Regions from separate parts of the Homo sapiens genome. Here region 2 is linked to region 1. The links come from fine-mapping of genetic effects on gene expression. Tissue or cell type: NK cells. Region 1 holds a variant in brackets; the other region holds the start of a gene. All regions are shown on one strand. Distances are between the middles of the regions.

Region 1 (2,681 bases):
TCCATGGGCCCTGGGAAAAGATTGGTGTTTACGAGTGGGGAAATTCCTGCACCAGAGGGATAAGCTTTGGGCACGGATGGGTTTCCGGGCTGTTGTGAGCCGCCAGTGCTGTGAGGAGGTGAGGCTGGGAGGCAACCTGGGGTGTGGGGAAGGCTGGGGTTCCCACCCCATTTACTGTCCACTCTGCTCCTCCCAGGTCATGGCAAAGGAGCCATTCCACTGGGCTTGGACTCGGGACCGGCGCCCCCACCATGGTGGGGTTCAGAGGGTCTGTCCACAGGTCCCTGTTCGCCTTCCCCGGGGCCCTGGCCTCTCGCCGCCCCACTGTTCCCCCTGTGGTTTGCCCCAGCACTGCAGCAGCCACTTGCTTAAGCCTGTGTCATCCAAGTGCCCTTCTCTGACCTCTGAATGTCATCGCCCTCCCTCCCAAAATTATCTCTCAAGGGTCAAAAACGCCTGGGGTGGGGACTTTCTCATCGTCTTGCCTCCCCAGATGCAACTGGAACCAGGCACCTACTCCCTCCGCAGTGAGTGCAGGATGGGACAGGAGCTGGGGGCTGGTGTGGGAGCTTGGGAGGCAGGAGTGAGGACCAACAATATGAGAGAGAGGGCCATGGGCCTGGGGTCGACGTGCTGCCCCTCCCGTGTGAGCTTGGCAGGTTTCTTCTCTGAGCCTCACTCTTTCCTCTCCCCAGTCTTCCCAAAGCCTCCGGCACGCCCTGGGCACTGAAGCTCTGCAGGGTGAAGAACAGCACGCCTGCTGGCCCACTGACTGACACACCATTGGCTGTGCTCCCACCCCTGCCCCTTCCTCCCAGCCTGCAGCTTGTGCCCACTCTGGTGCCAGTCCCCTCTAATAAATTCATGTCCACAGGACACCAACTGTGCTTAGGTCCTGGCCTGGTTCCTTGACCCAAGGTTGGGGTGGGGAGGGGGTATCTACCAGGGTTACAACATGTGAGCACAGGCTCTGTAACAGCTTGGCCCCTTCCCATTGGTGGCCAGTTATTCTGAGCCTCAGTTTCATCTCTGTGCTATCCATGCCTATGGATGATGAGATCTACACAGTCTAGATGGGATTAAATGAGATGAGGTATCTGCAGCCCTTAGAAGAGGGCCAGGGAGCCGAACGTGGTGGCTCACACCTGTAATCCCAGCACTTTGGGAGGCTGAGCCGGGTGGATCACTTGAGGTCAGGAGTTCAAAAACAGCCTGGCCAACATGGTGAAACCCCTTTGCTACTAAAAATACAGAAACTAGCCAGGCATGGTGGCAGGTGCCTATAATCCCAGCTACTCGGGACGCCAAGGTGGGAGAATTGCTTGAACTGTGGAGGCGGAGGTTACAGCGAGTTGAGATCATGCCACTGCACTCCAGCCTGGACGACAGAGTGAGACTCTGTCTCAAAAAAAAAAAAAAAAAAGGCCAGGAACATATTGGGAAACAAAACTTGAATGGAAGACAGCTCTTTATTTAGTCTAGAAATGCCTTCAGGGCCAGGTTTACTTAGGAATAAGACTTGATCCCTTCCTTGAGCTACAGTCAAATATAATATTGTAATTATAATAAACAACCCCCCTCCCCCAAGAGACATGAGGACTCAAAAGGGTTAATTTCTTTTTTTCTTT[CT/C]TTTTTTTTTTTTTCACATCACTCCTTTATTATACTGATCTGGAAAAAGATTTAGTACAGTTATGCTCAGATGAACACTGGACCCATGTGGCAGGGCCAAGCAAGTAGAACATGATTCAGAAATCAGTGAAAGACATACTTGGACAGGACCAAGAGGCATTTCACTGTCACGAAACAAGGCAGGAAGGGATTGTAATACCCACACCAGGAAGCACTCCTGCCCCTCAGAGGTCAAGGAGCTGATCCTATATTGGTATGAGGAATGGCTTATTTTCTGATGACTACATGTGGGACTATTTCAACCGCCACGAGAAACCCCAGAAGGGTTATTGTTTTGTATTATTTATATATACTATACTTCTTAAATTAAATGTAACACATAACTAAATTCAGGATTGATCCCAACCTTCTAGAGCCAGCTCCTCTGGCGTCAGGGAGGAAACAGTTGTCACATCACCATGCAGGTTACATTCATCTTCCACTGGAATGACTAGAGCCCTCAGGCAGTGGCCTGACTGCAGACGAGCAGAGGACTGGCTCCTGGGGACAGACAGGCTCTGTTGCTTCTCCTCATTGGTCATGGCTTAGCATGGTTCCTCCCCACAAGTCCTTAGTAAACAAAGCAACTCGCAAAAACCCAAGTCACTACTTTTAAACTCTGTTGGATAAGGGGAGCTTTTCCACAGCTTGGACTGAGAACCTGTGCTCTAGAAGTGCTATTCTGACTAGATTGTATGAAGGGAGTGGGTGCAGGAGACAAAATGGCTAAAATGAAAATGGGAGTCACTGGTCCCCATCTGCAGCTACAACTCAAGATGTCTACAGATGGGGTCAGTGTGACATGTGCAGGTGGGAGGGGCAGAGGGACAAGACAGGCAGGGAGGGTGCTCCTGGGAACAGTATCCTCCCTGCTGGCCTTCACTTCTTGGCCTTGCCCTGGGCAGCCACAGCTTCCATGGCTTTGCGTACCATCTCTTCATCCCCCAGAAACTGCATGGGCTTGATAGGCTTCAAGTTCTTGTCCCATTCATAGACAATGGGAATACCAGTCG
Region 2 (2,681 bases), 88 kb after region 1:
CCTCTCAGGCGCACCCCCTTAGAGTTGTGAGCCCTTAAAAGGGACAGGAATTGCTCATTCGGGGAGCTCGGCTGGTGAGACAGGAGTCTTGCCGATGACCCCAGCCGAATAAACCCCTTCCTTCTTTAACTCGGGTGTCTGAGGAGTTTTGTCTGTGGCTCGTCCTGCTACAAAGTGATCCGCCTGCCTCGGCCTCCCAAATGCTGGGATTACAGGCGTGAGTGACCGCACCTGGCCTGGGATGGACATTTTAAAGGTTCCTGATACATATTGCTAAATTGTTTTCTCGAAACGCTCTATACCATCCCACCAGCATTGTATGACGCCTACGGTTGAGATTTTTGGCTCAAAGAATTACGGTGTATTTCAAGGGGAGAACCCTCTTCTCATCTTACCCCTAAACTCTATCCTTGAGTGACCTACCTTCACTCCCAAGCCTCCAGTCACCCACTGGGAATCTCTACCTGGAAATCCCAGAGGCACTCAAACTTAACGTGTCCAAAACTAAATTATCCGTCACCTTCCCACCTCATATCCCCCCAAATGCCCCAGATTCAGAAAACATACCCATCACTGTGGCTGGCACCACGGTGATAAGCACGATAATAACCATGGCAACCAGATTCCCTACTGAAGCCATTCTTTTAGGATGAACCAAGGGCACAACAGGCAGAGATGACAAGGGGAATGGAGAAGGGGGTACAGTAAGTTTTAGATAGTCGAAGGCACGCGCACGACAACGCCTGCGCACCACGGAACAGGGCAAAAGGGTGACAAACATGCGCCACTGAGTTTTATCGAGCAGCCGATGCCCAGAAAACAGGCATCCGCACACAGACTCAGTTTCCTTGTAGGCAACTCCCGGGCGTTGCGAGTCACAACCGGCATTCTCGCGCCGTGAGAGAGAACTGCGCAGCTGCTGACTGGCGGGCCGCCAGGCGCGTGCGTAGAGACGCCCACACGCCCGCTGATGCGCACGCGCCCTGGGCCGCGCGTGCGCGCGTGGGGTTCCGGAATGAGCCGGGGAAAGCAAGGGGAAGGTTTGGGGTTGGCTCCCGGTTTCGCGCATGCGTGCACTGCACAAACCATTTGGCGGGTTTTTCCGGCCACTCAGTTCTGCCACCGTCACTGAGAAGCTCAGCGGTAGCTTTTGGGAAGCAGGACGTTCTCACCAGGAGAGCGTCCTCTCGAGATTTCTGCTCCCTCCATTCAGGGCGTTTGGGAGCCACCCCTTCATTTTTTAAAAAAAGTATTTCTCTGTGACCGACGGCCGGGGCCTTCTGACGGTCTGAGGTCTTGCTTGGGCCAGTCACCTCCTGTCACGGTCCGCGGAGGGGGGAAGGATAAGAGGGCGAGGAGCTCATCGCTCGCCACCCCCGTGGGCTTCTTGGGCGCAGGTCGGAGCTGGGTGGGCCGGCTCCCCGGCCCCTGGCTTGGGCGACCATGTCCGCATCCGCCCAGCAGCTGGCGGAGGAGCTGCAGATCTTCGGCCTAGACTGCGAGGAGGCTCTAATTGAGAAATGTGAGTCCCGCACCCCTCCCGCCCTGCAGCCGTGCTCCACGCTCTCGCCCGAGTTCCTCGGCGCCTAGAACCGAAAGTGGAGCGCTTCCAATTTCCACTTCCCCTGGAGCAGAGTTCTCGGTGGCTGTGAGATGAAGAATCAAACTTGAGTTTTGAGATTTAGGATGTGGGGACTTTGAAATGCCCACCGGGTACCGCTTGGATGCCAAATCAAAAATAGGAATATGCAGCACGATTTTAAACCAACTCGAAGTTCCCGAAAGGCGGAATTGGGATGTGCTAGATAGAGACTAGGCACTGGTGGCACCTGAGTTTGGAAATTGTTGAAGCCCCGGTAACAAAGCAACAGATGTGGGGGTTTTGAAATGTAGCTTTTTATTCTTGGCTCCTCCCTTTCCAGCCTACACCTTAAACCTCTGCTGATCCATCAGTTATTTTATCATAGCTGTTGGTGGTCTGTGCAAATATGAATCCCTTGAGGTAGGTTCCTAAAATTGAATTTGAGCTGTGGAAGGAGCTTTAGGGAGCTTTACAGATGGAGAAACAGACAAGGAAAGCTAATTGCCTGAGCTGTCTGTGAAGCCAGGTGTCCTGCCTTGGAGTCCCGTGCTGCATCATACGGGTCCATCGTGTTGGTCAAGCTGTAGAGCAGTGTAAGGAGTCATTTGAAGCAAAGCCTGGGAGATGTGGAAGTTCTAGAATCGGTATGAATGTGCACCTGCCTTAACCACTCAACACTTTGAACTTCTTATATACAAAAAGATAACGAAACGTTAATTTATGGTGAGAAATTCCTTTCAGAAACCAGAATACTTCAAGTCTTCATGCCCAGTGCCTTCTCTCTCTCTCTTTTTTTTTTTTTTTTTTTTTGACAGTCTTGTTTTATCACCCAGGCTGGAGTGCAGTGGTGCAATCTCGGCTCACTTCAGCCTCCGCCTCCCAGGTTCAAGCGATTCTCCTGCCTCAGCCTCCCAAGTAGCTGGGATTACAGGCGCCCGCCACCAGGCCCGACTAATTTTTTTTTGTACTTTTAGTAGAGAAGGGGTTTCACCATGTAGGCCAGACTGCTCTCGAACTCCTGACCTCAAGTGATCCACCCACCTTGGCCTTCCAAAGTGCTGGGATTACAGGCATAAGCCAGCAGGCTCGGTCCTTCTCT

Which allele goes with the higher level. Alleles are on the strand shown, and positions count from the first base shown. SD is a standard deviation of normalised expression in the study named.
With allele CT in place of C in region 1, the expression in NK cells of the gene that starts at base 1,113 in region 2 is lower (small effect, 0.34 SD a copy in Gilchrist 2021).

Evidence for each region. PIP is the estimated chance that this variant, and not a neighbour inherited with it, causes the effect.
Region 2: it holds the start of POLA2, and the variant in region 1 is fine-mapped to the expression of POLA2 in NK cells (Gilchrist 2021, PIP 0.95).

The regions. Positions count from the first base shown.
Region 1 is chr11:65,172,488-65,175,168 of GRCh38, forward strand. It overlaps SPDYC (speedy/RINGO cell cycle regulator family member C), which reads left to right. Exons shown (of 7, transcript NM_001008778.3): 5 at 1-118; 6 at 197-527; 7 at 696-887. The coding sequence ends at 730. It also overlaps the pseudogene PGAM1P8. Among named protein-coding and RNA genes, the nearest start is that of SPDYC, 3.6 kb to the left of the region's middle. The variant CT/C (reference allele first, on the strand shown) is at 1,629.
Region 2 is chr11:65,260,850-65,263,530 of GRCh38, forward strand. It overlaps POLA2 (DNA polymerase alpha 2, accessory subunit), which reads left to right and starts at 1,113. Exons shown (of 18, transcript NM_002689.4): 1 at 1,113-1,522. The coding sequence starts at 1,444. RefSeq lists enhancers at 251-1,138, 1,133-1,382, 1,139-2,024.